2 linked regions of the Homo sapiens genome follow. The protein of the gene in region 2 interacts with the protein of the main gene of each other region in a biochemical or structural test. Each region holds a gene or a part of one and is shown on either strand. Other genes may lie near its edges. The genes, in order: SYNJ2BP and SYNJ2.

Evidence for each region.
Region 1: the proteins of SYNJ2 (region 2) and SYNJ2BP form a complex in vitro, tested with the Homo sapiens proteins (one study listed by BioGRID).

The regions. Positions count from the first base shown.
Region 1 is NC_000014.9:70,360,375-70,375,971, forward strand, and holds the end of SYNJ2BP (synaptojanin-2-binding protein), read right to left. Parts: intron 15,398-15,597; coding exon 15,302-15,397; intron 12,758-15,301; coding exon 12,617-12,757; 3' UTR 6,125-12,616; downstream 1-6,124. Other genes in the region: SYNJ2BP-COX16 protein, read right to left, coding at 12,659-12,757, 15,302-15,397. UniProt on the Homo sapiens protein: Regulates endocytosis of activin type 2 receptor kinases through the Ral/RALBP1-dependent pathway and may be involved in suppression of activin-induced signal transduction.
Region 2 is NC_000006.12:158,086,647-158,103,151, forward strand, and holds the end of SYNJ2 (synaptojanin-2), read left to right. Parts: intron 1-208; coding exon 209-343; intron 344-2,013; coding exon 2,014-2,126; intron 2,127-3,192; coding exon 3,193-3,301; intron 3,302-6,279; coding exon 6,280-6,458; intron 6,459-7,241; coding exon of another isoform or gene 7,242-7,364; exon of another isoform or gene 7,365-7,391; intron 7,392-8,971; coding exon 8,972-9,718; 3' UTR 9,719-12,530; downstream 12,531-16,505. UniProt on the Homo sapiens protein: Inositol 5-phosphatase which may be involved in distinct membrane trafficking and signal transduction pathways. May mediate the inhibitory effect of Rac1 on endocytosis.

The sequences.
Region 1 (15,597 bases), on a different chromosome or scaffold from region 2:
GACTTTTAAAAATAAATCGCTTTTGAAAGATTAGGTTGAAATGTAATCAGTGTAGTGTCTCATCAGTCATTACTGAACTTTTAATGCTAATGATTTTACTGTGAGATAACCTGTAATCTTTAGTCATTTATGAATGTCTATTTACCAATGATTCAGCAACCATACAGGCCACCTTTCAGCGTGTCTTTGAAAGGGTTCTAGGAACACAGATAAAAATATATGATCCTTACCTTAAAGACACTGGCGATTTCATGGGCACAGAAACAAACATGTGTGAAGTACTGGGATAGCTTAGGAAGCCGATCCCCCACGTGTCCCATTTACCAGAGTGAATCAGAGTGCAGGTGATGCGGAATATTATCTTCCATGCTATTCCTGAAATATTTCCATCTGTCCCTGCCTCTCTGTTACCACTGAAATGTTCCTTTTTTTAATTCCTTATCATCTTTTCACCTATTAAAGTAGCCTCTTAAGTGGTCTCCAGAAGAGAAGCTCCAGATCTACTGCAGGCTACTCCAGTGAAACTTATCCTTTTGGCTAAGATCAAGTGTAGTATCTGTTCTTAACAGTTTAATATTTGACACATTCTCTATCCAAGGAAAATATGTTAAATGGGTTTTTGAAGCAAGGAGATGGAATAGGAGTTTGCTCCACCACTCTACACATCAACCTGTATTTCAATACCTCCAGAAACCCAGGAACGGTGCATCTCTCCCATCTTATTTACTTCCTTTTGATATTTCAAAATTCATGCAGACCAGGCATGGTGGCTCATGCCTGTAATACCTGCAGTTTGGGAGGCTGAGGCAGGAGGATCATTTGAGCCCAGGAGTTCGAGACCAGCCTGAGCAACAAAGCAAGACCCCATCTTTACAAATAATAATAATAATAATAAATTAGCCAGGCATGGTGGGGTCTCAGCTACTTGGGAAGCTGAGGTGGGAAGATCACTTGAGCCCAGGAGGTCCAGGCTACAGTGAGCCGTGATCATGCCACTGCACTGCAGCCTGGGTGACACAGCTAGACCCTGTTTCAAAAATAAATAAATAAATCTCACGTGGCATCCAGGTTAGTTAAGCGTATCACATCTCCTACTTTCCCTAAGATCCTAGAAGCCAAAGGCGCTGCTCTAAAACTCTAGCGTTTTCCTACATCTTCACTACATAAAACATCAGCCTACTGGATACTACTCCATCAAAACCCGGCACCTAAGTAGTAGCTAATAATGGGTTAAATCGTATACATATATTCAAAATAATGCTAGAGTCGATAATCTTACACTTTTCAGATAAGGCATCTATCCAATTTAAGGCACTCTATGTCTTTAGTATCTTGTTTGTTCAATCACTCAAATAAGCATTTATTGAGAACCTTGAAATGGCCCTGAAGGAGTAACTGTGAACAGTAGGAATTACAGGTATGCCGGCAGATTGTCAGGGGACAAAATCTGTGACACTGAGGAATGTAAGCACCTATCAAATCATACTACATAGGTGGTAAATTTTACCAGCTATGCATAGCGCCCTTCTTAAGCATCACTACTGTATACTTCAGTTTTTCCATCTGTTAAATCGGAATGAGTGATATTTGTCATCAGTTTACGATTCTCACAAAAAGGGAACACAAAATTTCTTACCAGTATGGAATCTGTTGCCTTCCCAGAAATATGACTCAAATTCCATGTGTTTCCATTGTTAATAAACAGTTAAAATGCTGACTCAGCTATCTTAACTGTAAGAAGTTACAAAAAATGTATATTCAGGAAATGGGGCATCTCCACCATCTATGCCAGTCCCTGAGGACTGGTATGTACTTGATATCCAGGCAGGTTATATTATCCTCTAGTATCTGCTCTACCAGCATTTAACTCATGCAAGTACATGGGAGCGTTGTTATAAAACAAAAACAAAAACACCAGTCTTCTTGAGAGCTTTAGTCCTGAAGTTAGGTTTTAGAATTATGGCCAGAACTGGCCAGCCACAGTGGCTCATACCTGTAATCCCAGCACTTTGGGAGGCCGAGGCGGGCAGATCACCTGAGGTCAGGAGTTTGAGACCAGCCTGGCCAACATGGTGAAACCCTGTCTCTACTAAAACTACAAAAATTAGCCGGGCATGAAGGCGCATGACTGTAATCCCAGCTACTCGGGAGGCTGAGGCAGGAGAATCACTTGAACTCGGGAGGTGGAGGCTGCAATGAGCCGAGATGGTGCCACTGCACTCCAGCCTGGGCAACAGAGCAGAATTATGGCCAGAATTCATGGCTATGGTAATCGAAAGATTAGTTACTTCATGAATCTTTGTTTACTTTGATAATGCCATTGAATCTACTAATTGTTTTTTTTTTTTGAGACAGGTTCTGCTATATTGTTCAGGCTGGTCTTGAACTCCTGGGCTCAAACAATCCTCCTGCCTTGGCCTCCTAAGTAGCTGGGACTACAGGTGTGTGCTACCATGCTTGGCTTACCATCTAATTTGATTCACTCAAAAACCTTATGATAGGGGCAGAACATGATGCCAGACTCATCTTATAGGTTAACAGACTAAGGCTCAGAAAAGTTAAGAGGCAAACACAAGGTCTCACTTTGGAAGGGGTACAAATATCCCAAACAGAACTAAATTTCCTGTAGAATTGGACAATACTGACTATCTCCTTGAAATTCTCTCCTCCTGTGGCTTTTATGGAAGTTTCACTGCCATGGCTCCTCTCCAATGGTGAGACTTCTTTTTGTTGTCTTCAGACTTACAAACCTTAAACTGGAGTCCTTAGTCCCATTTTTTCCCTCTGTCTCAGTTACTCTCAAACTTTAGTGTGCACCAGAATCCCTGGGAGAGCATTAAAACAGACTGCTGGGCCCCATCACCAGAGTTTCAGATTTAGTAGATCAGGGATGGGGCCTGAAAATCTGCCCTTCTAACAAGCTTCTGGGTGATGCTGCTGGTCTGAGGACCACACTCTGACAACCACTGCTCCATCCTCTTTCCCTAGGTAAACTCCACTTTCACATTGGCTTCAAATTTTATCACAGCATGGAAGACTTCTGGTACACTTCCAGGAGCCTGAACGATTTTCTAACACCTCAAGGTCAACATGCCACCAAGGTTTATTTTAATCCTTTTCTCCATTCAATCTAATTTCTATGGCTAGAACTAGAGTAGCTAAGAGTTGGTCTAGTTCAGTCCAACTTGAAACCAGTTAAAATTGTCCTTGATATTGTTCAGCCAGAAAATCAACTGTTTCTTCTTTAATGCACTTTCTCTTATGATAGTGATCATGAACATTCCAAGTTTAGAATTATTGCTGTATTTGCCTTATTACTTTTTATGGAGTATAAGATATGGGGTAAACAGGACCATGCCTAATACATTTCTGTTTTCCATGACTTCCTTCATAGTACAAAACCACAATGCATAATTTTCTGGAAAAACAAATGAAATGACAGGAGCAGCCAGGAGTGGTAGCTCACATCTGTAATCCCAGAACTTTGAGAGGCCAAGGCGGGAGGATCACTTGAACCCAGGAGTTTGAGACCAGCCTGAGCATCAGAGCAAGACCCTATCTTAAAAAAATAATAATAATAAATAAAACAAACCAACAAACAAAAACAAGGAAATGGCAGGATCTTCCCATATCATGCTATACAGTGAAGGATGAAGAATACATGGCTCACTGCAGCCTCAACTTCCCAGGCTCAAGTGATCCTCCCACCTCAGCCTCCCGAGTAGCTGGGACAACAGGTCCATGTCAGCACACCTGGCGTTTTTTGTTTTTTTTTTTTCATTTTTTGTAGAGACGAGGTCTCACTATGTTGCCCAGGCTGGTCTCAAATTCCTGGGCGCAAGCAGTCCTCCCACCTTGGCCTCCCAAAGTGCTGGGATTTCAGGCATGAGCCACCATGCCCGGCCAGTAATTCTCAAACCAAACAAAAATCTGCTTTGTAACACTTTGGAGAGAATCAAAGGTAACTATTCCATACAAAAGTGCTAGAGGTCTCTTCTATACAGACAGACAAAAGAAACCGAAAGGAATTCAAAGACAACGGCAATGTCCTAAAGTACACTATTACTTGGATTACAAATTTCATCAGGTAGAGCAAAGCAGGAACTCTAGCCTGCTGGTTGTCACAGGGTTAAGCCCTATCTGAAAGCTTTCTGTATAAATATTGTTAATTAACTAGGGTTTCCTTTTTGGGTAGGTGGATGGGTGCTTTTGTAATATAAGTCAGTGGTGAAACAGGATTTTATCTATTGAACTTTATGTTAAAAAAAACTTTACAGAAACACTTATATTTAGAAATATGAAGACAAATGTTTGAATTGAGAGCAAGTGAAGTGCACTTTTATCTCAAGATAAACTTCCTGGAAAGGAAACCATTAAAAAATGTCCTGTCTGTATGTGTGTTTTGTGTTGTTTTAAATGCTTGAATAACATCTATTGTCTACCACTGGTTTTAAAAAAAAAAAAGATTAGTCAAATACCATTGTACACACAAAGTTTCCTATAAAACAAAACACAATGCACATCCAATAGAATTGGAACTTGATGCCTCAAAAATGAATCTATTTCCTAAAATAATCACTTCCAAATCAAACAACATTTTGAATAACCCCCAAACTGAGGAGGATATCAAAATAGAACTTATGTTACATGGCAGTTAATAAAAAGGAAAAAAACTTCATATGAAGTCCTATGATTGCACATAACTGAAAACAAATATCCAACTTATGAAAAGGAAAAGTACAACAAAAAAAAGCCCAAAACCAAAAACACAAACAAAGGAAAGCATAACGAGGGAATTAACCAAAATAAAAGCTAAACTAAAAAAATAGGAAACAAGCAAAAATACAAGAATTGATTAGTAAAACCATCCCAGGTGATATCAGCAGAACAAATAGTCAATTGACAGAATCTTTTAAAAAATTATTAATATGCTTTAAGCCACTTAAGTTTTGCAGTGGTTTGTTACATAATTGGTAACTGACACACCTTTGCCTATCAAGAAAGAACATGGCCATTCTATACATACTGTAGACTACCAATTTGATTTCAGGCCTGAACTGCTTAACATGGGTGACGGAGCAATGATGACCAATGTAAACTGCCTTTTCTCTTCATATCAAAGTCAGCTGTATGCAAACTAACTTAGAATAAAGGTCAACAATATTCAGTTCTGACAAGTCCTTTTTCATGCTGTGGCACAAACCCACTTCTGCCTTCTATGTATCTTATAAGGCTTTGGGGGATGAAGGGGATACAAGTAAGATGGTAAATGTTGGCAACTGCTTGCAAACATTGCGAATAAATACACAATGATACTGCTACTGCTATTATAGAACATTTAACCTAGTGCAGTCAATTTCCTGTTATCCATAATGGAAGGATATGATAGCATGGTTGAATCAAATTGAGTATAGTAAACCTTAATTTTCTAGAATAGTGGAAGGGCAGTGGACTCATTGGCTTGAAGTAAATTCCCAGGTCTGGAACTGACTAGTTATGTATCTTGAGCAAGTTATTAACTTCTTTAAGCATCAAGTTACCTCCCCTATAAAAATGGAATATTGACACTGCCTTGCACAGATATGAGAATTTGGCATTAAGTTATACAAAAGGGCAGCCTAATGCAGTGCCTGGTACCATGGGAAGTAGAGACAGTAAGGTGTTATAGTTATGAATGCAGGTTTTGAAGCCAGATTGCCTGGGTTTAAATCACAGCTTTGGCACTTAGTAGCTGTATAACTTGGGCAAGTTACTTAACCTCTCTATGCCTTTTATCTATAAAATGAAGATAACAACAGCAGTTATCTTAAGAGTTGTTTTGAGGCTTAAATAAATATTATACATGCAAAGGCCTTAGAACAAAAGCTGGAATATTGATAAGAGCTCCATAATTGTTAACAGGATATCAATGTCCTGTTCCTTATCTCCTATGTCAAAGCCTCAAACTGATCATTTAGATTTCTTCCTCTTTCCACAATTCTGTCAGAGGTGTTACCCTAAGAATATCTAGTACATAGTAAGCACTTATCAGATATTTGCTGAATGAAGGAAAAAACCCTCATCTGGAAGAAAAAAAAATGAGATATTTAATCAACGGTCTTCAAAATAAGGTGAAAAAAGATTGTAAAGATTCAATGACAAAGTTTTATTAAATACCAATACTGGCTAGGCACAATTAGACACATTATTATCTCATTTGCTGTATCTGGTATCAAACAACAAAGCCTGAAAGATTACCATAGATTTTGATGGCCTCATTAACATAATTAATCCGTAGTGACATTCCCTGGATAATAAATACAGTTTTATGTCCGTGTGTCTTCTGTGTCTTCCAAGTTGCTACAGGGCTCTATTTGATCTGAGAAACTGACTGCTGTTTACATCCAGGTATGCAATGTGACATTAGAATTGAAGCAGAAAGGAAGCAAAACAAAACAGGGTTCATGAGGAAAATAATCTTCTAAGAACTAACATGGCCTGGAGGTAAAATGCAAATATATCCGGTAATAAGAAGCCCAGATTACTGCAGATAAAAGATTAAAATAGGATTCAATTATTCATCTCCATTTGCAAATCTACAAACTAGGAGGAAGGACTAACCCTTTTCCTGGGATTAGTAACTAAATTTAATGATTACAGCAAATATAAAGTTCTTTTGTAAATTATTGTTGGTTAAGGATTGACTTGCATTGACAACACACTTTAGCTCTCGCCCCTTTCATTCTCCCCCTGCAAGAACAAAGGCAAAATGAACAGTGAGGAAAACCTGGAAACAGGACCGAGTGTTTGCTATCACTTGATTCCTTTGAAGGAGCAATGCTTTCTCATAATATAGGTTTTATAGTATCATCAAGTACATCAGTTAAGCAAATCAAGTGCTTTGTGTTCTGTATATAAATTACATAATACAAGAGTCTGTGGCAGTTAAGAATCTGGTTCTGCACTTTGGGAGGCCGAGATGGGTGGATCACGAGGTCAGGAATTCAAGACCAGCCTGGCCAAGATGCTGAAACCCCGTGTCTACTAAAAATACAAAAATTAGCCAGGCGTTGTGGCACACACCTGTAATCCCAACTACTGGGGAGGCTGAGGCAGGAGAATCGCTTGAACCCGGGCGGCAGAGATTGCAGTGAGCTGAGATCGTGCCACTGCACTCCAGCCTAGGCGACAGAGCAAGACTCCGTCTCAAAAAAAAAAAAAAAAAAAAAAAAAAGAAAAGAAAAGAATCTGGTTCTGATCAGAATCCTTAAAATACTGTCTTCTTTTTTATCACAATTGCCCTTTTGGATGTGAGTGCTGGTCTCAAAAAGATTTGCAGTTAAAAGAGGAACAGCAAAAAAGACTTACACCAAAATAGCAACCAACTCTAAAACTATTACAGGTGAGAGGTAGACAGCTTCATAACTCAATCTTCTACTACCAGGTGATGTTAAAAAAATACTTTAACATCAAAATCACCTACAAATATTCCTCCACTTTCATATGCTGAGCAATTTCAGCTTAGAGTGACTAAGTGTTATTTATCTCTCTATCTTCGGCACCTAGCACATAGTAGGCAGTCATTAGTTATTTGCTGAATGAAGGAAAAAAACCTTCATCTGACCAACGATAAATTTCACTAAAATTGACTATAATAAAATCTGTATGGGCTCCACATGAAAACTACATGAACTTCACTTCCCCACATACCTGACAGCCTATACACTTCCTTATGTTTCATTTCTTTAAATATACTTTAAAAATTGCTTATTTACACAATAAAAACAATGTCCACCATAAAAAAAAAAGTCTCTAGAACTATTGGAATTAGTCTCAGAATAACTCATCTGATTGGATTTGATATGAGATCATTCTCAGATTGTTCTGTGGAATCTCCCAATTCCAATAATGATGCTTGCAATATCCTTTAGCTGTCTATCAGTTCTGGTCTTTATTCAGGCCCAAAGAGAGAAGAAAGAAGTAGACTAAGATAAAATGGGTAGTCTGTGTATTCATGTAGTGAATATATTCAAGACATAAATATGAGACAGAAAGGTCACTTCTGCAACAAACTAAGTCTGATCAGAGTTAAGTTAGCTTCCCTCTCTGAGCCTTTATTTTTCTCATCTCTAAGACAGATTCATCCTAGAAGCTCTCTGGTCCTTTTTAGCTTCAATGTTCTATGATTGGTTCTCATTTAATTGATGCACCAACTGAAACACTCACTAATCATACATTTTGCTGGAGGTTGATCAATCCTTAGCAAATCAGGAAGAAATGAATGTTCCACTTACTTCGTGCAGAAGCTCAGGAAGCTGGGCTCTAAAGGCCCAAGTTTTTGTTGTTGTTGTTGTTGTTGTTGTTTTGCCTGAAGCAATGTATGTAATTTAATAATTTAAATAGTGTTTAATTAAATAGTGTCTTGTTTAAATGCTATATAACATTTTCAACTGCGGCTGCACACCAGAATCACTCAATGAACTTTATTTTACTGCTGCTTGAGTCCCACCCTCAGAGGTTCCTTTTAATTGATCTGTGTGCAGCCTGGGCATGGGGACGTTTATAAGCTCTCCAGATGATTCTAACCTGAGCAAAGGGAATGATGACTGGCATAGAGCAATGAGTCTCAAACTTTAGCATGAATCAGTCACCTGGAAGGATTACAAAAACACAGATTGTGAGATGCCACGCTCAGAGTTTTTGATTCACTAGGTCTGGAACTTCTTTTTTCTCTTCTGGGAACTTGCTTTTTGTTTTTTGTTTGTTTGTTTTTTTGTTTTTGAGACAAGGTCTCACTCCGTTGCTCAGGCTAGAATGAAGTGGAGCAATCACGGCTCACTGCACCTCAGTCTCCTGGGCTCAAGCAATCCTCCCGTGTAGCTGGGCCTACAGGAATGCACCACTAATTTGTTTGACTTTTAGTAAAGACAGGGTTTCACCACATTGTGCAGGCTGGTCTCAAAACTCCTGAGCTCAAGTGACCCACCTGCCTAGGCCTCCTAGAGTGCTGGGATTACAGGCATGAGCCACCATGCCCAGCCTATGAACTTGCTTTTCTAACAAGTTCCCCAGTAACGCTGATGCTTTTGTCAGGACCTTGCTTTGAGAACCACTTCCAGTGAGAGAATATCATTGATGCTGGCATCTGAAGTCCTGAGTTTAAATCCTGATTCTATTATTACCACCTACATAATCCTAGTCAAGTAATTTTTTCTCTCATTTTTAGTCTCTTTGTGACAATACTTAGATCCCAGAGTTATGAGACATGAAATAATGTACCAATCAGAGTTTGGTACAGTCCCTGGCATAGAACACAATAACAAATATTAACTTCCTTTTTCCATTATACATGGCTAGATGGAACAATTAAGTTAAATCGATAACACATAAGTTGAAACTTCACAGGAAAACAAAGTACAGCTAGTTGAAGCAAACAATATCTTATAATTATACATGTAATACAGAATGATAGAGAAATGTTTTAAGTACTTAAAAATACCTTCGTTCAATTTTCAAAACTTTGAACGTAATAATTTAGGTAGTAGGAACATTAGATGCAATCTATAGAAGAAATATTAGACTCAATCTATGAAGAACATGAATTTTTTTACAACCTATAATGGATCCTGATACCTCATCTATAATTTTAGTTTTCTATAGAATCAATAATATAATTAGTGTACCTGCTTAAAACTGTATTACATTGATCTTCAATGCTACTTAATTTCTGAGAAAACCTAAGTTATAAGAGTACATCAGAATCTCTATTATCAACCAAAGCAAAACTTCTACCAACGACAGAATGGATACTTTTTAAACAAATTTACATATACCAACAAGCAAAAAACTAGAGCTTTCATTCCTGCTTGACATTTTTTTCACTTTGTGTGTCTCAAGGCTCTCTCAGGAATCAGTGTCCAAACCATGAGGTGAATCCTGGGAGGTAAGCAAGCTTGCTGTAGAAGCCGCTGTACATGCCTTCAGGAACAGAAAGGGTACCAGAGGCTGTGCCCTCCTAGTGTGGCTGGTTGGAGTGACAACTAGAATGTTGTCCGTGTTTTTCTGTGGAACCTACAATGAGTCCAGTTGTCTAAGTGAGTCTCAAAGGTATTGAATAGTTGATGTCAAAAGGCACTTTATGTCAGGACTGTTTAAAGCAAGTTTCTCCCTATACCAGTAGTGACCCAGAGGCAAGGTCTTACCGGACCTCTTATTTTCAAAAGCCTTCCCTTTCCAATTGAGCCTGATGCCATTATGTGACATCTTTTTTTCCCTGAATTTCTAAAAGAAAATGTGATGATTACCTGCATATCTTCTTTGTTGCTGCATCGTGTTTTGCATGGTACCCCTTTAATATTGTTTTCAATACTTAGCCTGCTGATATACTTTTAACTTCTCACCTGTTTATGAATTCTCTTAACTAGGCTGTGAGGCCCTTAAGGGTCTTCAACTTGTCCCTTTCCTCCACGTAACTTTCTCAAACGCCCCAGTTCTCAGTAACTTTTCTCTTTTGCTGTCTGTAATATAAACATGACCCCTACTTACACTGTCCTACCTATGTGGCCAATAAGAGTGTTGTCTTCGCAGTTGGAACCCAAAAGCCCTATGGGATGGAGGATATGCACTGTACTTCTTTGTAAAAGTGTCTTGACAAAGCTGATGTCCAATCAACATTTAATTACCAGACTGTCCAAGCTAGAAATGAAATACAGTTGATTGCCTGAGTCCTGATAATCTTGCTAACAAAATTATAAAAGGCCTATAGTATGGCCAATATATTTGGCTAATGGAAATGATTTTCTTAAAGCCAGAAAATTCAGCTACCCATAGTGCTTAAAACCAGCCTTAAAAGAACATGAACAGGATGGTTCCCACCTTATCGAGATCACTGGCATTCCATAGTATCCATTCATTCATATCCTCCTCCTAGGCCGCATGAAACACCTACCACATTTCCCTACCTCCTAAAGCAAACAAAACTCTTTTCCTCCCTCTTGCTGCAAAAAGGTTTATTAAAAGCCGTATGTAGTGTATAAAGCCTTTCAAAAATACTAGCAATCCATGCCTTTCTTTTTTTGAGATGGAGTCTTGCTCTGTAGCCCAGGCTGGAGTGCAGTGGCGTGATCTTGGCTCACTGCAACCTCCGTCTCCCAGGTCCTGGTTCAAACAGTTCTCCTGCCTCAGCCTCCTGAGTAGCTGGAATTACAGGAACGCGCCACCATGTCCAGGTAATTTTTGTATTTTCAGTAGACATGGGGTTTCACCATGTTGGCCAGGCTGGTCTTGAACTCCTGACCTTGTGATCTGCCTGCCTCGGCCTCCCAAAGTGCTGAGATGACAGGTGTGAGCCGCTGCACCCGGCCTCATTTTAACTAAATCTGAAGCCAGAGTTGATTTGATGCCCATCCTGCCAGGGAGGCAGTTCCTTCCCTCAGGTTTGTTAGTAGAAACCAAAAAGTAGCCTGAGAGGGTTCAGGTGCCACCTTGGAGGCACTACCTTATCTTTTGTCCTTTTAGAGTTTTCTTGCTGGGGTGTTTGGCTCCAGCACTATAGCCCTTACCACAATCATTCCACCTGGTTCTTCAATAGGACTCTGAGGTATCAAAAAAGTCACTAGGGCAGCCCAGAGATTGGTACGATTTACCTTTACACCTCAAAGTTTTTTAGATGTGAGCAGCGCTGGATTATGGCAATTTACCTTATAATAACTCACCATAGTTGGCTGTTATAAGAATAAATATTGTTCTTCTAAGATTTTTAATTAGTTGCTTCAGTTATTACATTTTTTTCTATTTTTTTTTTAAATAGAGATGAGGTTTTGCTATGTTGCCCAGGCTGGTCTCCTGGACTCAAGCAATCTCCCACTTCAGGCTACCAAAGTGCTGGGATTTACAGGCATGAGCCACCTCTCCCAGTCTCAGTTATTATTTTAATAAATGAGACTGAACGTCCTCTTATAAGGCTCACTCCCTTGTTCCTACTACATTTGCTCTGTTTAAGTATCTCTTTAAATTCTTCAGTTAAGATCATCCCTTTTATCAGAAACCTAGACACCACAAAGTAGCTTTCTCACCTTTAATTCTCCATAGGGATCACTATTATACTATAATATTTGCATACGTATGTGTATATATGTATTTGCTTTTTTAAAAAAGTAAAAATGCTCTTCTCACTCTTTGTCGATATAGGCACCCAGGTACGTAGTTAGAAATTAAATAAAGGCCACAATAATTTCCCAAGGAAGATCATTAAAAAGAAAAATCCTTTCTTCCTCTAATATCACATAGCTGGCCTTTATGGCATGCCAGCTAAGAAAAAAGGTATTGCCTATGGTGACAGGAAGACTCAATCTTTCTCTCTTTGGGTTGTAGCTGAATTTCTATCAAAAGTCCTAGTAAAATATATAACTCCTCATTTGTTCTAAGCCAAGTCTTTTCTTCAGTTTTCCTTCAAACAATACCTTTACTTTCCCATTAGAATATGAAGAATTGGAGACTGTGAACAGCAAGGTTTGGGGTGGGTATCAGTCACTTCAAATCTGGCTATGCAGAGAGAGGGAAAGACATGGCAGAATAGCAGGGGTGGAGGGTGAGTGAAATGTATCTTCATTGGGAGTATTGAAAGAGAGCAAGTTTTTCAAAGTTGTTGCCGGTATCTCATGAAAGCCCAGGCTGCTACCATGGTGAGGGCAAACACTGGCACCAGCACCATAAATATGGGAATACCACTTGGGTCCCCTTCACCTCGATGTCCTATAGGTCCATTCTGCACCTGTAACTGGAAGGGAAAGAAAAATGTTAACTCTAGTGACTAATGTGTGTTTGCAACTGAAACGCCCAGGTTGATACATCACCTGGGTTTGTAGACTCTAGACCACCCAAAACTGTAACCCCCAGCAATACCTAGCAGAAGGAGTCCTCTCTTTGTCCTGAGCTGATGCATCAGTGTCACAGGATCTTTGGAAAGAAAATAGGTCTAATGGGGAGGCATTTAACCTTGCTGACCTAAAGGGACCCGTGAGGGCAAGTCAGGTAATTTCTGTTTCTGTACTGCCTCTACCTTGCTATTTGTGTATCGTATCAGGAAAATGAAGACATGAGATAAAACCTATGATCTTATAGGGAACTTGGATATTACTTGGTGAGGAAGAAGGGGGATCTTTCTGGAAATGTTTACTTAGATAATCAGTCATCAAAATGTAGTAAGAGCAGATGTGGGCAATGTCAACATAGGTGCAATACCAACATACGTCCAATGCCATTACTTGAAAAATGCTTTCCAGATCCCAGAAGGCACCCAACTCCCTCCAAAGATGGGGTTTTGCCCTTCATCTGCTCATTTCTAATACTAGAGAGAGATGAAGGTGAATCTATATGGAACAGATGTAAAAAAGCAAAAAGAAATTATATCCTAGTGCTTATAATTTTCTATTGGCTAAGTGTTTCCTTTTGAGGCTGGATGGTCTTCATTTTAGTGATGGTTTTCAGGGTAGCTCTTCTTAATATCAACTTTTAGTGGCTAACTTGCAATAATTATGGCATCATCGTATTTCAGTTAAACTGCCTCATTACAACTCATAAAACTGACACTTCAATCTGAAAGGCAAGACTGCATGAAATACCATTATACCCTCTATTCCACCTCTATGTTTTTCATTCATTTGCTGATGAGCTGTCCTGAAAGGACATGCTCAATAAGAAGGCATGGTTTTTAGGGCTAGGCCAATTGCCTGAACATAAGGGTCTTTTTTATTAGGAATTATTTATGGATGTTTCCTTAAAAGTGAACACTGGAAATAACTTCTCACATACCTTCCAAAAGAATTGTAATCATATTGAAGTGTGTCCCTATATTTACTTGTTTTTATCTACTGCACAAATGCTCCCATGCTTTAGAAAGAGAAGAGCCAAGGCAGAAGCAACTGATGACCAATATTATCTCTTATTAACCTGTTTTCTAATCCATTACACCCAGATTCTGCTTGCAACTGGTTGTTTTCTCAGGTATCTTTCACGTTCTGCCTTCTCTACTTTTTTAGGAACTCCTCTAAATGTTCTTAAGCTTCTAAATCCTTAGCCACTGAGTGAGGAAGAGTGCACCTATTTAAGAAGTAGCAAATTGATTTAATTTAAAGGCACATGGAACCTGTTTTGTGAATATGCTCAGAAATTCTCAATGCTATAGGAGGAATTATATCTACCCAGGCTTCCCTTTACATCATCATCCAAATTATAAAACACTTGGAAATAAGAAACAGATGCAGGGATAGGTGCTGCCTTGACTGAATTCTGAATTCCATTTCCTTTTTCCTGGAGTTCTCCTATGAACACTAAAGATTTGGTTAAGAGGGTCACCAAGTTGATAAATGAAGGGTTCATGGCAGTGACAGGGAAAAGCATATAGTGGGTACCAGAAAACCCACCATCTTTGTAGTGTTTTATCCAATGGTTTTATAAATAAGTTTTCAGCGGTAGACATATGGTTCCTTCCCTACCAAAAAGTAAAATTGGCTACGTTTTTTTACCATCTTTTTAATTAATTAATTTATTTATTTTCCATTGGTCCATGTCACTCTTAAAATTTTTTATTTATTTTTATTATTATTTTTTTAAGAGATGAGGTCTCTCTATGTTGCCCAGGCTGGTCTTGAACTCCCGGGCTCAAGCAATCATACCACCTTGGCCTCCCAAAGTGCTAAGAGTACAGATGTGAGTCACCACACCTGGCTTTTCTTTAATCATCTGTTTTAATTTGGTTGTCAAGCTTTATCTTTAAGGCATATTATCTTGAAGCAAGGACCTTGGTTATAAGCCATACTGTTGTGAATTTCTCTTTTTTTTCTCTTTTTTTCTTTTTTTTTTTTTTGAGACAGGGTCTCACTCTCTTGCCCAGGCTGGAGTATAGTGGTATGATCTTGGCTCACTGCAACCTCTACCTCCTGGGCTCAAGCAATCCTCCCACCTTAGCATCCCAAGTAGCTGAGACTACAGGTGTGCACCACCGTGCCTGAATTTTTTGTATTTTTAGTAGAGATGAGGTTTTGCTATGTTGGCCAGGCTGGTCTCGAACTCCTGGCCTGAAGTGATCCGCCCACCTTGGCCTCCCAAAGTGTTGGGATTACAGGTGTGAGCCACCGTGCCTGGCCTGAATGTCCTTCAATGATAAGCAGAAGTACCAATGGACCCCTCCCTTTGCCTGAGAAACTCTTCAGGGGAGTGAGGGTAAAACAAAAAGCAACACTGAAGATTACACACATTGGGCTTATTCAGAAGTACAGTGCAAAAGCCTGGTGCCAGGTTTCTGGCTCAAAGTGATACCTACCCTGTGCTGCACTCTCAGAGACACAGCATAGCCTGCATTACGAAAGAGGTCTACAGCATCCTGGTGCAGCAGGTTCTTTAGGTCTTGGCCATTTACCTGTCAAAACACCAAAGAGTAGTAAGAAAGGAAGAAGGCTATTAGAAGTCAACAATTTATTTTCAAATGGCCAAACTTTAAATAACAAACTCCTTCAGAGCAAATTGCAAGGACTAGGAGTATGGGCAAAGTTACTTAGAGCTCAGAACTTAGAACTTTTTTCATTTTCAAAACTATGTTTTCCTAGAACTGAAGTTCCA
Region 2 (16,505 bases):
TGGTTCACTGAATGTTCCAAGCAGGCACTGGGTGCCCTCCCCGCCCCCGCCCCTCGCCGGCAGACAGAGGTGCCCGTTTCTGGACAGAGCCTTCAGCTGTCCTACAGCAGGTCCCCCTGCCACAGTCGGCCTCCTGTGCTCAGATCCGTGTCTGACACGCTCACGTGTGGAACAGACCATTGTACTCATGCCCCGCCATGTCCTCCAGATGACGCGGACCTGGTGGAGCTCAAGCGGGAGCTGGAAGCCGTCGGGGAGTTCCGCCACCGTTCTCCGAGCAGGTCTCTGTCGGTCCCCAACCGGCCTCGGCCACCTCAACCCCCGCAGAGACCCCCCCCTCCAAGTAAGACTCTGCTTGCTTTCAGCTCCCTGGATGCCTGCCAGGAATAACCGCGCGTTCCCTGCTACTGAAAACACGGCTCCGAATCCACTTCTCCCCGGCCTTCCGGTCCCCACAGGGCTTCCTCCTCCTTGGGCTCCGTTTTGTTGTAAATCCAGGACACGTTTGACGTCAGGGCTGGTTGTGTTTCTCATGGCAAATGAAACAGCTCCTTTCCAAAGCTGCTGTTCACCCTGGAGCTGTGCTATTGCTTCAAACTGCTCTCCCTTGGCAGCATTAGAGGATGCAGAATGGGGGCCGCAGCCATGGGAGGGACGTGAGCTTCGCAGTCAGAAGTCTCTCCTCAGCTGCTGCGCAGTCCTCCCTCTACTTATGAGGAATCTGGTAAACCCAGGTCCCCGCCTGGAGGTGACCTGGTCACCCCTCTGCGCTCCGAGGCCTCCTGTTCCCCGGGCTCAGAACAAGTTCCCCCTTATCCTGGGTCTAGGAGCATTTTCTTCTGGTTGTTCGAACAATGCTTTGCCCGTCCAGCCCTCCCTGATAACCTGAAAGCAAAGCTGTGATGTGCTTTTGATCCACTTGCATTTTCCCACCACTGTTTACTTCTCCCTCCCCAAAAATGTGATGATCAGACTTAGATCTTCCTAAGCCATTACTTCAGAATTGGGCTCATTGTGGCTGACGTCACGGTAGTAACCAATGGCAAGCCACAAGCCCAGATATAAAAATAACCCAAAAATAAAATGCATAAGTCATGTATTATTGTGGAAATTTTAGAGATAACTACAAAGAAGAACAAAATTTTAAAATTCACTTGATGACCTACGGGTCGTAGTTGTTGAAAAAAGTCTTCTTTTTCCAGTTTCATGTATCTGCAGCAACATACTTCTTTTTTTTTTTTTTTTTTTTTAACAAAATTAATACCCATTTTCTCTGGTCGGTTGTCTTTTATTTAATGGGTTATATTTTCTGTGTCATTGAATGTTCTAAAACATGATTTGTTAATGGCTGCAAGTATATTTTAACAGTTTATTCCCCTGCTTTGGAATTTTTTTTTTTTTTTTTTTTTTTTTTTTTTTTTTTTTTTTTTTTGAGATGGGCTCATTCTGTCCCCCGGGCTGGAGTGCAGTGGTGCGATCTCACAGCTCACTGAAGCCTTGACCTCCCCGGCTCAAGCAATCCTCCTACCTCAGCCTGCCAAGTAGCTAGGACTGCAGGCGCATACCATCAGGCTTGGCTATTTTTATTCATTTATTTATTTATTTTGTAGAGACAGTTTCACCATGTTGCCCAGGCTGGGGTTTTTGAAATATTTTTTCCCCACAAAATATTTTAAAAATCTGGTCCTAGCAATAGTATTTGGAACCATTTCAAAATCAATTGGTTTTTATATCAGATCTGAATCCCCCAAGATGTTAAAGTTTGCATTCTAGTAATGCTTCTCCAGATCATCTACATCAATAGGCACACACTGGTAGAATCAAGTGAGAAACTCCATAGAGAGTCAAGGAAGGCCTGGCTCTGTGGGTGCCCTAAGTGCCGAGTGAGTATTCGGACCTCACCGTGTCTGTGGTCTGCTGGGACATCCGCCTCGTCTAGTCGGGCTCCTGGCAGCTGGCTGGGAAGTTGTGCCTTCACTGAGATTGAGACTCTGCCCTCGTTGGTTTTTACAGCCGGTTTAATGGTGAAAAAGTCGGCTTCAGATGCGTCCATCTCCTCCGGCACCCATGGACAGTATTCAATTTTGCAGACGGCAAGACTTCTACCAGGAGCACCTCAGCAACCTGTGAGTTCTTCTGCATACATTTCAATCCCAAGGGTTTTGCCCCCGGGATAGTGTGGGATCTCTCTTCTCAGTGAATATATAGATTTATGTGTCTTTAACCCTCTACCTGCTCACCATCTCATCTCCAAACCCCATAACCCTTCCTCGCAGGTTCTCCATAGGGCTTTTAAATGGTTGTATGGAGTGTTCTAGAAAAAATCACTTTTGATGAAAAATCCCAAATATCCCTGGTTTCCATACTCATCCATTTCTCTCTCTTCCCATTCTTGCCTCTGACCTTGGTGTATGGGCAGAGCATTGCTTGGTAGAAGGGAAAATGGGAGAAATTCAGGTCGTTATCCTGGGAAAATGATGATCATTCTGGAGTGAAGTTGGTTGAGAGAAGAGGCTAAAAAGAGATGTAAATAATGAAGTTGGGGAACACACTAGGAAGACTAACAGCCATAGAGGATTGTGGAGGTGCCTGGTTCCAGAGGGTACCATGAGCTGCTGGGGAAGAGAGCAGGTGAAGGCAGGGAAGTAGAGGGGAGAGAGGGGAAGCTGGGTGCTAGGGGGAAACTGCTATGACCGGGATGCCTCTGGGGTGCTGGGCCTGGTTAAGTGCTTGTGCGGCCCCAGCAGGTGGAGGGGTGACTGGAGGCCAGTGTTTTACAGTAGTGAAAATAGGTCATAAAGGCAACCCACATGCTGGATGAAGAAGTAGAAAAAGCACTTTTAAGGAAGGTATTTTAACAACTCAGTGGGACCATGGAAAGAGTGGCCTCTTATTTTGCTTTCTGGCTTTCACCTGGTTATTGAAAAAAAGATAGAAGATGGTCTGTCCATATGCAAAAATCTGTAATCACCCGGCTTTGAAGACCAGGGTCATCAGGTCTAAGTAGTATGGCACTCTTGGAAAGAGAGTGCTCCAGGAAAGAGAGGATTGCAGGGTGTGGTGGAGGCTGGAGTTTGTATGGTCAGCATCGTCTGGTGGAGCCCTGCACAGACCCACGGGTAGCAGATACGTCCCACGAGGCTGTCCTCCTGCCTCTGCTGATACTCTGCTCTTCCTCATTCTGTCCTCAAGCCCAAGGCTCGGACTGGAATAAGTAAACCTTATAATGTCAAGCAGATCAAAACCACCAATGCCCAGGAGGCAGAAGCAGCAATCCGGTGTCTCCTGGAAGCCAGAGGAGGTAGGTGCTTTCCTGGGGGCAGGGGAAAAACCAATTCTCCTTTTCTTTTTATCTCCCTGCTAAAAGTGGTCTAGAAACGAAAATAACTCTTTTTATTCTTCTGGAGGCAATATTAAATGAAAACATCCTTTAGCAACATTTTATATAAATCTATACTAAGATTGATTGTCCATTTAAAATTGTATTTTCAAAATTCTGTGTGTATATAAAAATCATCCCAGGGCTATTAAGCGGCGTCTAAAGGAGAGACCGAAAAAAACCAAAATGAGTTTTTAAAAAAGGTGAATGCTGCCGGCATGAAGTCATTCTGCCAGCTTTATAAAACAGAGACAGTTATAGTGTTTGTCCTAATTTCAGGCACAAAATCTACCTTTTAAATCACTGGCAAGTGGAAATAAAGTTTTTAGTGTCAGGCAGGGACCTCTTTCCCACCACATTATTTTTTGTTGCTGTTACTTAAACCATGTTAGTTACCTTGGGCTCTCCCCCACTTCATTCATAATCACTGGTAATTTACACTTTTAGTTTTGGCCTTGGCTTTGTTCCAGAATCTCCTAGAGAGGAGAGTGTGCCCTTTTCTTCGTTTTTTTTTTTGTTTTTTTTTTTTTTTTTTTTGAGACTGAGTTTCACTCTGTCAGCTGGACTGGAGTGCAGTGGCTCAATCCCAGGTCACTGCAACCTCCGCCTCCCAGGTTCGAGCAAATATCCTGCCTCAGCCACCTGAGTAGCTGGGACTACAGGCGCGCAGCCCCATGATGAGCCAATTTTTGTATTTTCAGTAGAAATGTGATTTCACCTTGTTGGCCAGGCTGGTCTTGAACTCCCAACCTCAGGTGATTCATCCACCTTGGCCTCCTAAAGTGCTGGGATTACAGGTGTGAGCCACCACACCTGGCCGAGTGTGCCCTTTAAAAAGGTGTAAGCAATCACCATTGCTTAATTTGCTTTTAGTCAGCATGTTTAACTTCTTTGGAATTCTCAAATAATATTTAAGGGGGCATGAGTTAAAAGGTCGAGAACTACTGTTGTAGAATGATACTGCTACAAATGCTTTCTTTTTTTTTATTTTAGAAAAATAACTAAAACTAGGCCGGGCGCGGTGGCTCACGCCTGTAATCCCAGCACTTTGGGAGGCCGAGGCGGGTGGATCACGAGGACAGGAAATCGAGACCATCCTGGCTAACACGGTGAAACCCCGTCTCTACTAAAAATTCAAAAAATTAGCCGGGCGTGATGGTGGGTGACTGTAGTCCCAGCTACTCAGGAGGCTGAGGCAGGAGAATGGCTGAGCCCGGGAGGTGGAGCTCGCAGTGAGCCAAGATTGCACCACTGCACTCCAGCCTGGGTGACAGAGCAAGACTCCGTCTCAAAAAAAGAAAAAAGAAAGAAAGAAAAATAACTAAAACTATGGATATAACAACCCAAGTGTCCATCAGCTGATAAATGGATAAACAAAATGTGGTCCATCAATACAATGGAATATTGTTCAGCCATTAAAAAAAAAAAGAATGGGGCTGGGTGCTGGGTGCAGTGGCTCACGCCTGTAATCCCAGCGCTTTGGGAGGCCGAGGCAGGCGGATCACGAGGTTAGGAGATCGAGACCATCCTGGCTAACACAGTGAAACTCCATCTCTACTAAAAATACAAAAAAATTAGCCGGGCGTGGTGGCACGTGCCTGTTAGTCCCAGTTACTCGGGAGGCTGAGGCAGAAGAATCATTTGAACTGGGGAGGCAGAGGTTGCAGTGAGCCAAGATAACGCCACTGCACTCCAGCCTGGGTGACAGAGCTAGACTCTGTCTCATAAAAAAAAAAAAAAAAAAGAATGAAGTGCTGATACATACTACTTCATGGGTGGACCTTGAAGACATTATACTATGTGAAAGAAAGAAAAAAAGGCCACATAGTGTACCATCCCCTTTTTATGAAATGGCCACAGCAGGCAAATTCATGGGGTCAGAAAGTTCTTCTTGCTTTCCAGGGACTGGAAGGAGGCCTGGGTGGGGAGTGGCTGCTGTGGGGCTTCTTTTTTGTGTGATGAAAATGTTCTGGAGTTAGATCGTATGATGGTTGCACAACTTTGTGGATACACTAAAAACCAATGAATGGTACACTTAGAAAGGGTGAATTTCACGGTATGTGAATTATGTCACAATAAAGCTGTTAAAAAAAAAAAAACTCTAGAGATGTAGATGTTAGTAGAGGTGTGAAATCTACCTACAGTCCCGGCTTAACACTTTCTTGGTCATGGCCCCATTGAGATTTTGATGTCTTTGGATCATCTACCCTGAGAAATGTAAGTACACATGAGACTTTGCATATGATCTCAGGGTCTCACTGGTCCCCATCCAAACTATCCACAGACCCCAGATCACCACCCCTGCTAGGAAGGTGAGCATGAAAACCTGGGACTGCTGGGTGCGGTGGCTCACGCCTGTAATCCCAGCACTTTGAGAGGCTGGGGTGGGAGGACTGCTTGAATCCAGGAGTTCGAGACAAGTCTGGGCAACACAATGAGACCCTCTCTCTACAAAAATTTTAAAATTAGCTGGGCGTGGTGGTTCACACCAGTAGTCCCAGCTACTTGGGAGGCTGAGGTAAGAAGACTGCATGAGCCCAGGAGTTCCAGCAACATAGTGAGACCTCATCTCTACTAAAAATTTTAAAAATTGGCTGGGCGTGGCAGTGCTCACCCGTAATCCCAGCTACTCAGGAGGCTGAAATGGGAGAATTGCTCGAGCCTGGGAGGTTGAGACTGCAGTGAGCCGTGATCATGCCGCTGCACTCCGGCCTGGGTGGCAGAGCGAGAGCCCATCTTAAAAAAGAAAAAAGAAAAAAAGCTGGGACTGAATCTAGCTGATTACTCCTGAAATACACTGAATTAGTAAATGACACTTAGGATGTAGACTGTCTAAGGACGAAATCATGCAGTGAATTGCCTTGTCCTTTACACTTCAGCCATGTGGTTTTATGTTTCAGGTGCCTCCGAAGAAGCCCTAAGTGCCGTGGCCCCAAGGGACCTTGAAGCATCCTCTGAACCAGAGCCCACACCGGGGGCAGCCAAACCAGAGACCCCACAGGCGCCCCCACTCCTTCCCCGTCGGCCCCCACCCAGAGTTCCTGCCATCAAGAAGCCAACCTTGAGAAGGACAGGAAAGGTAAAAGCCTGGTAACATAAAACCTCTTACTCCTAAGTTGCTCACATGTCTCGATAGATAAGAATTGTGGCCTGTAATCCCAGCACATTGGGAAGCCGAGGCAAGCGGATTACGAGGTCAGGAGTTCAAGACCAGCCTGACCAACATGGTGTGAAACCCCGTCTCTACTAAAAATAGAAAAATTAGCCGGGCGTGGTGGCGCACGCCTGTAATCCCAGCTACTCAGGAGGCTGAGGCAGGAGAATCACTTGAACCCAGGAGGCAGAGGTTGCAGTGAGCCGAAATCGTGCCACTGCATTCCAGCCTGAGCAGCAGAGTGAGACTCCACCTCAAAAAAAAAAAAAACAAAAAAAAAAAAACAGATTTGCGTCTCACAGATAAAAATCTAGTTCCCTATGGACATCCTCACGTTCATGAGTCCCAGACACAGGTGTGTCTTTGGGGAAAGTTTTGACAACTGCTTCTTCCCTCATATCCTACTGTGTCTTGGCTCTGGCTGAGAAGAACGAGGAGTCCACTGTCTGGCACATTGTCAGTGTGACAAGAACAGCTTGGAGGTATTATGCTTCCTAAGTGTTTTGAGTCCCCAAAGGGAACCATAGTGGGATGCTTTTCCCCACATGTTCTGGTACCGCCCATTTGCGTGTGGTCTGTGTTGTGTGCACATGGTTTCAAGGCATTAGGAAAACAGTAACCGATTCCCAGATTCGCCATGTTCACATGCTCTCGTGCGGCCTCAGCCTACGAGAGGTTCCACAGCTTTTCTTGCCACTTTTCTTGCAGATTGTTTTTTGCTCTCGCTCTCAAGCTTCTCAGCCTTGCTTACTGCTTCAAAGACATGAGTTTGTAAGGACAGTAGCAGCCCAAAGACTGGCATCTGTAGACACATCTGGATCTTCCGTTTGATCTCAGTGTTCTAGTAACGGACCCTCGGTAATCCCTTCCTGGTCATCACAGCACGATGCTGCTTCCCCCCTAGAGAGTGTGAGGGGGGCTTCGGCTTCACTCTTGACAGCGCTTGCTTTGTATTTCCTGGGTTGCTCTTCTGTCCCACATTGGCTCATTGCCATCTGTCCCTTGTCCATGCTTCCTTACAAAGTGGACCTTTTTCCTCCGCCTCTTCCCTGTTCAGATGCTCCTCGACTTAAAATGGGGTTACATCCCAATAAACCCATCGTAAGTTGAAAAATAGCGTGTCAAAACTGCATCTCATACACCTAACCTAGCAAACGTCATGGTCTCGCTGACCTTGAACACACTCAGAACACATACATTAGCCTACGGCTGGGCAAAAAAAAAAAAAAAAAAAAAAAACACCCATCCAACACAGCCTATTTTATAATAATAAAAATAAAAGATCAAACTTCAAAATTCAAAGTATGCTTTCTACGGAACATTAGCGCTTGTGCACTAGGGTGAAGTGGAAAATCCTCAGTGGAACCATTGTAAGTCGGGGACCACCTGCTTTGTCTTTTCTTGTAAAAGCCAGGAGCAGAAATAGATTCATTTTCCCAACCTGCTGCACAGGAGTTAAAGTTAAAAGGCTGTTGGAAAAGAGACTTTCTTTTTTCTTAGTTTGTTTTCTAAAGAACCAAAGAAACACTGAAACGCCAATGTTTAACTAGTCTACTGATCACCTTTTCTGAACAAAAGCTTCATTTTGCCTGTGCAGTTGTTTTCTTTGTGATAGATTTGAACCAGAACCAAGGCAGTGTCAAGGTTTCCATTCTTTACCAATATTTAAGTATAAAAGATTCAAGGAGCTGGGCGCGGTGGCTCACGCGTGTAATCCCAGCACTTTGGGAGGCTGAGGCGGGTGGATCACCTGAGGTCAGGAGTTCAAGACCAGCCTGACCAACATGGTGAAACCCCGTCTCTACTACAAAATACAAAAATTAGCCAGGCATGGTGGCAGGCGCCTGCAATCCCAGCTACTCGGGAGGCTGAAGCAGGAGAATCGCTTGAACCTGGGAGGCGGAGGTTACAGTGAGCTGAGATTGCGCCATTGCACTCCAGCCTGGGGGACAGGGCGAGACTCCTTCTCAAAAAAAAAAAAAAAATTCAAGGAGAAAGTATATCCATTAGTCCTTCAGTTAGCTTATGTTGTAACACAAGTTACTTCACCCTAGCATGATACAGACCATGAATCAGCCCAGGTTGCAACTTCAAAGAGTGTTTTCAGAGAGGTTTGCTTTCAATAAAGGAAGAGCATCACCCCATTTCCTAAAGGACAAAGAAAAGTTTGTCTGATTATTTACTGTGGCCCTGGTTTTAAATTTTCCACTCGTTTTCATTGGACCTGCTGGTGTGACCTGATAAATGTGTGTTTCTCCTGTGCTTTTTCTTTTTCTTACCTGGTCACATTTCTGGCACCCCACACATTCTCAAATCTCGAATTTGCTAGAATGTCAGCTTGGTCTCATCTCTGTTCTCTGCTGGCCACTCTGTTCTCTGATCCTCAGCTGCCTAGTTATTGGCTTCTTATTTACACTCTTTGTCCCACCTTTTCTCAGCCCCTGTCACCGGAAGAACAGTTTGAGCAACAGACTGTCCATTTTACAATCGGGCCCCCGGAGACAAGCGTTGAGGCCCCTCCTGTCGTGACAGCCCCTCGAGTCCCTCCTGTTCCCAAACCAAGAACATTTCAGCCTGGGAAAGCTGCAGAGAGGCCAAGCCACAGGAAGCCAGCATCAGACGAAGCCCCTCCTGGGGCAGGAGCCTCTGTGCCACCACCTCTGGAGGCGCCGCCTCTTGTGCCCAAGGTACCCCCGAGGAGGAAGAAGTCAGCCCCCGCAGCCTTCCACCTGCAGGTCCTGCAGAGCAACAGCCAGCTTCTCCAGGGCCTCACTTACAATAGCAGTGACAGCCCCTCTGGGCACCCACCTGCCGCGGGCACCGTCTTCCCACAAGGGGACTTTCTCAGCACTTCATCTGCTACAAGCCCCGACAGCGATGGCACCAAAGCGATGAAGCCAGAGGCAGCCCCACTTCTTGGTGATTATCAGGACCCCTTCTGGAACCTTCTTCACCACCCTAAACTGTTGAATAACACTTGGCTTTCTAAGAGCTCAGACCCTTTGGACTCAGGAACCAGGAGCCCCAAAAGAGATCCCATAGACCCAGTGTCAGCTGGCGCTTCAGCTGCCAAGGCAGAGCTGCCACCAGATCATGAACACAAAACCTTAGGTCACTGGGTGACAATCAGTGACCAAGAAAAGAGGACAGCACTGCAGGTGTTTGACCCACTGGCAAAAACATGACTGAGCAGCTTTGAAGGCTGCAGTCCTATAGAATGCATACCTTCCTCCCTCTAGACATCCCTCCACCAGAAGAGACATCTATTTAAAGGCACACTGGCCAAAACGTTTGTGCATCTGTCACTCTCGTGTAGTTTACAAAAATCGTGTCTCTTATTCAGTAAGATGGTTACTCAGCCACCAAAATATATTTCACTCAAGGCTTGTACATCTGAAGTTTGCTCTTCAAGGAATGGGAACCTTCCTGTTAAATTCGGTGTATGGATTTTAAGAAAGGAATCTAGCCAATGAGGTCCAAGAAGTTCTCACCCATTGAATTTTTAAATGGCTGTTCAGTTCATGTTGTACGTGATGGAGATTTGTCTTTTGTTTTATTTGCATTTTACAGATTTGGTATAACATTTTGGGGAGCCACCTGAAGGTTGATGTATAAAGTAAGGATTAGAGAAAGAGGTCGTTGTGACCATTAGTAGCTGTCCTGGCCCACTTAAACAAGGTTACAAAAAATCAGAGTCGGAAGCAGCCAAATAGGTCAACCTAATGACTAGACTGTACATTCCCATGAGCCTTCATGTTTAAGTGTGTACATGTGCGTTAACCTTGATGATGCGTGAATCCCGAGGGAGCCGGTGGCATACACCGTTAGCTTAACCTTAGCTTAAACTAGCTGAAGGCTCCTGTGCCATGTCTTAGACATTGCATGCCCTATCAATTACTATAATCCTGAGCCATGGTGTGCTACTGAAACCAATTTTTATCCACCATCTAGTCCTTATTAAATGAAACCTCACGGATCCTTTGTTCCGCTTATATTCCATGCATACCACATAAAAGCACACAGTGCGAAAACTCTTGCTGATACGCGATATTGATTCTCATTGTTAGAATATGGAGAGTGTTTCAGCCTCGTCTGTCCGGCTGGAGCTTCGGGATGGAAAGTGCTATGTGTCCCTGCATATAAGAATCACCAGGCCAGTGTTTCTGGGTTTGCTTGTCTATATGTTTGTCTATATTTTTTGCCTATACATTTTTCCCACGTTTCCAACAGCACTTCTCACCTATTCAATAACTGAAAAAGACATTACCATAGTGCTTTACATTTTTAAAGTAATGTTACAAGGTCTGGAATCCATTTGGAGCAGATACCGTGTTTTCGCTATTTAATAAGAAGTTCAGTAGTGAAATCTTACTGTACCGCCTGTTGTATCTGGGAGCCTCGTACAGAGGCTCGCACAGCAGTGATCAAGTGTCATCCCTTACGTGACTGGGGGATGTCTGTCCTAAAAGCTGACTGCTAGGATAGTAAGGATCATCTTGCCTGGGCTATGCCACTGTCTTGTTACCAATTAGACATCTGGAATTTCATAATTAGTTTTCATTGTCACTGTCAAGATATATTGCAGATTACTTAAATATGGCCATCAAAACAAAAGTTACAACACGTATCTCTTTTCATCTGAAAACTAATACCTGGAAAAGGATAAAAAAAAAAAGGAATCCGTGACCCACAGAGCTAGACAGATAAGATGCATAGTTGACCAGTCATAAAAGGCGGTGTTTAGGTGATCAGGATGCCGTTGGTGGCATTTACGTGCTTTATATGATTTTTACCTCTGTAACAAACACAAGAAATAAACAGAATGGTCCTTAACAGAGTTTGGGGGAGAGAGCAAGATGGGTTCCTTGGAGAAGCTGATTTGCCAAGATGCACATCGCTATTAACAGCCAGAGTCATAAATGAAATGAAATTGAAGAATTCATTCAAATGCTCTTTTCCCTATAACCTCTTTTCTCACCAAAAAGGAGATAAATTTGAAAACAGATAAATGTAACAACCAGTCAAAGAAGCAGGGGAAAAGTAAGCTCCTCCAAAGTTGCTTGCAGTGCTGGAAATAGATCTCATTTTTAGGTTTTCTCTTCGTTCCAGATACCAAATAAATGGGACAGAGAATAAAATTTTTGTTAAAATATGTGCTCATCTCCTAAGTAGCTCTTCAGAGTCTGACCGTAAGTAAAAACACACAGAATTGTGTTGACTGGGGGAGGTGAATCACAAAAAAGTTACGAGGAGTTTAAGAGTTAAATATTATTTGATCGTGGCTGTCAAATTTAGTGAACAACATAGATTGGATTTGGAGTTGGTAGTAGGTATGGTTCTCATACCAGAATTCTCTTAAAAAAAAAAAAAAGGACAATTGGAATTGCCTTATTTATTTTTAAAATCAATGCTTACTAGTTGGTAGGATTCCCAGGTCAGCAGCAGGGTTGATTAAATAATCTTGACAATGAGCAGCTGCCATCTTGGGGGATTTCATTCTGTGGTTTTTTAAATGTTTCGTCTTTGATGCTACCATCCAGGGCTTCTTATTGTGACCTTGTAGCCTATTTTGTTCCTGCTGTTCTCTAACATGGTGCAGTTCACGCAGACTGGTTTAGGTACTTCACAACTCACCATTGTCTCTCTGACCCCAAGCCTAGTCCCTTTTACATCACCATCTTCTCAGACTTCTTGCCTATTCTTAAAATATGTTTTGGTTAATGATTGAATTAGGACATCAGCTTAAGCAATTCCTGTAACGGTTTAACGTTGTTGAAGTTCAAGGCACATAATAAAATTCTCCCTGATGTGTGTGTAAGTATAAACAAAGTAATGTATCAAAGCGTTCACTTTATAATGAAGTCATTTCATTGGGAAGGAAAGCTGCAAAGATTATTGGGGGACTAGTGATTAATAAAATCCTGTAATATTTTTGAAGTGAAAATTTGTACTGAAATTGTACATGATACCTATTAAATGTTTTTGTCTTTTTTTAAATTGGGTTTATTTCTTTTCAGATATGAAGAGAACCTTAGAATATCTTTGGCTACCTTCTGTTCTGGATCAAATGTAATTACTGGTTATTTAGTAATTCCTCTTGAGTTTCGGGTTTTGGTTTTTTGTTTTTTTTGTTTTTGTTTTTGTTTTTTTTGGAGACAGTCTCACTCTGTCGCCCAGGGTGGAGTGCAGTGGTGCGATCTTGCTCACTGCAACCTGCAGTGAGCAACCCGGGTTCAAGCAATTCTCCTGCCTCAGTCTCCTGAATAGCTGGGCTTACAGGCATGTCCCACCATGCCTGGCTAATTTTTTTGTATTTTTAGTAGAGACGGGGTTTCACCATATTGGCCAAGCTGGTCTCAAACTCCTGACCTTGTGATCCGCCTGCCTAGGCCTCTCAAAGTGCTGAGATTACAGGTGTGAGCCACTGCGCCCAACCGGTTCGTTTTTTTAACTATTAAATTAAGTTCAAAAACCAGAAAAGTAATCATCTGGTTAAGAATTTATGACTTGAATGCTGCTAGCAGGGAATACTGCCATAACATATAATAACTTTATGCTACTTAGAGATGCTAGAATTCATTTTCTGTACGATTTTATAGCAAACTTATAAAAACTGAACTGCTAGCTTGAGTCCATTACAGCATAGAAGCAGGAGACGGAAGTAAACACTTCAAGTTCTGTCTAGGTTTGCTCTAAGCTAATTAATACAATATAGATCATAAATGTTCTCTGATGATTTTCAGGAATAAGAATAAATCTCTAATAAATATGGCTAGTCCTTCCTGACCAGTAAGGAGGCATATTGAATTTACTAAATCTGACAGCCGGTTGCAGAAACTTCCTTTTCAAGGGACTGGGGGAGATAGGTTTAAAACGCACTCTCATCCAAGGCAAATTGTTTGCATTTATCTCAATGAGGTAATAAGAGTACAAATGAGGCCAGGCACGGTGGCTCACGCCTGTAATCTCAACATTTTGGGAGGCCAAGGCGGGTGGATCACCTGAGGCCGGGTGTTTGAGACCAGCCTGGCCAACATGGTGAAACCCTGTCTCTACTAAAAATATGAAAATTAGCTGGGAGAGGTGGCACACACCTGTAATCCTCAGGAGGCTGAGGCAGGAGAATCCCTTTAAGCCCAGGAGGCAGAGGTTGCAGCGAGCCGAGATTGCACCACTGCACTCCAGCCAGAGTGTGACTCTGTCTCAAATAAATAAATAAATGAGTATAAATGAGAGAGTAATTGTGAACAGACAGGGAAGATTTGGGAGAAGAGTATTAAGAATTTTGGGCCAGGCACGGTGGCTCATGCCTGTAATCCCAGCACTTTGGGAGGCCGAGGCAGGCGGATCACGAGGTCAGGAGATCGAGACCATCCTAGCTAACACGGTGAAACCCCGTCTCTACTAAAAATACAAAAAATTAGCCGGGCATGGTGGTGGGCGCCTGTAGTCCCAGCTACTCGGGAGGCTGAGGCAGGAGAATGGCGTGAACCCAGGAGGCGGAGCTTGCAGTGAGCTGAGATCGCGCGACTGCACTCCATCCTGGGCGACAGAGTGAGACTCCGTCTCAAAAAGGAATTTTGAACTATTTTTTTAATTAATTATATTTTCAGAGCTGTTTTATGTTCACGGCAAAATTGCCCAAAAAGTAGAGTTTCCATATCCTCCCTACCCCAACACGTGCACAGCCTCCTCCACTATTGACTTCCCCCCACCAGACTGGTACATTTGTTTCAATCAATTGACTACATTGGTACATCATCCTCCCAAGTCCATAGTTTAGGGTTCACTTTTGGTGTTGCACATTCTATGGGCTTGGACAAGTGTATAATGACATGGATCCACCATTGCATTATCATGCAGAGGAGTTTACCGTAAAAATCCTCTGGGCCCCACCTATTCATCCCTCCTTCCTCTCAATCCCTGGCAACCACTTACCTTTTACTGTCTCCATGGTTTTTCCCTTTCCTGAATGTCATAGAGTTGGAATCACACAGTATGTAGTCTTTTCATGAGTGGATAGCTCTTTTTTTTCAGTGCTGAATATAATCCATTGTCTGGACGTACCAGTTTATCCATTCTCCTACTGAAAGACACCTTAGTTGCCTTCAAGTTTTGGCAATTATGAATAAAGCTGCTATCAACATCTGTGTGCATGTTTTTGTGTGGACATAAGTTTTCAATTCATTTGGGTAAATAGGAAGGAGTGTAATTGCTGGATCATATGGTAAGAGTATGTCTGTAAGAAACTGCCAAACTGTCTTCCAAAGTGGCAGTACCATTTTGCATTCCCCCCAGCAGTGAATGAGAGTTCCTGTTGCTCCACATCCTCACCAGCATCCGGTGCTGACAGCATTTTGGGATTTTGGCCATTCTAACAGGTATGTTGTGATGTCTTAATTTGCAATTTCCTAATGACATGATATTGAACATCTCGTATGTTTGCCATCTGTGTGTCTTCTTTGGTGAGGTATCTGTTCATATATTTGGCCCAGTTTTTAAATGGATAAAGTTCATTTTCTTACTGTTGAGTTTTAAGCGTTCTTCATACATTTTGGATAACAGTCCTTTATCAGATACATCTTTTGTAAGTATTTTCTCTGAGTCTGTGGCTTGTCTTTTGATTCTCTTGACATTGTCTTTTTGCAGAGCAGAAAGAGGATTAAGAATTTGAAAAGTAACAGAGTCGATTAATAGAAAGGATGTTAGTCAATGGTAAAGATAATTTCAGAGGACCTATAGTTTAGGATTTTATTCTGTGTATAACAGAAGAAGTTGTTTGTAGAAATATCTGAATAAATCTGTGTGGTAGAATGGTTAAGGTTATAGGCTTTGCCTGGGATAATAGCAGCTCTTCAAAGCATCTGGAATATAGTTTAGAAATGGTATGAAGTGGACCCAACAGCTTCTTCCTGAGGGACGCCTATACAATGACCATTTGTTAAGTAATAAACCATTGCTCTTGCTTCCCGAATTAGGTTTCTCAAGGGGTTATTCAATTTTATTGACATTTTCAAAGAACACCTTTGGGATTTATATATCCTTTCTATTGTTTTCTTTTCTTTTTAGAGACAGGATCTCACTCTGTCACCCAGGCTGGAGTGCAGTGGCATGATCATAGCTCACTGTAGCCTTGACCTCCTGGGCTCAAGCAATACTCCCACCTCAGGTCCCAAGTAGCTGAAACTATAGGGGCTTGCCACCATGCCTGGCTAGTTTTTTGTATTTTTTGTAGAGACAGGGTTTCACCATGTTGCCCAGGCTGGTCTCGAACTCCTGGCCTCGAGCAATCCTCCCCCCTTGGCCTCCCAAAGTGCTGGGACTACAGTGCAGTGGTTCAGACCTGTAATCTTAGTACTTTGGGAGGCCGAGGCAGGCAGATCACTTGAGGTCAGGAGTTCAAGATCAGCCTGGCCAAATATGGGAAAAACCATTCTCTACTACAAATACAAAAATTAGCCAGGCATGGTGGTGCATGCCTGTAATCCCAGCTACTTGGGAGGCTGAGGTACAAGAATCGCTTGAACCCAGGAGGTGGAGGCTGCAGTGAGCCAAGATTGTGCCACTGCACTCCATCCTGGGTGACAGAGTGAGACTGTCTAAAAATATATTTTTTCTTTGTATTTTTAAACATCTTTCATTAATTTTTAACTTTAACTTGGATCTGTTTTGTACTTTTACTTTTGTTCTTTTCCTAATCTTAATAGTAGAACTGGGTTTTCATTTTTGGTCTTTCATAGTTAATAATAAAGATATTTAATTAAAGTTATACATTTTCCCTTGATTTTAGCTTTAACTGCACCCTATACATTTTGGAATGAAATTTCCTCCTTGTCATTAATTGCTAGATTGTAATTTGTCGTTGCGTTCTCTTTGATCCATTGGTTATTTAGGAGACTGTATAATTTCCAAATAGTTAAGGGTTTTTTGTTTTTATTTTTGATTTTGGGTTTTTTGTTTTTTTTTTTTTTG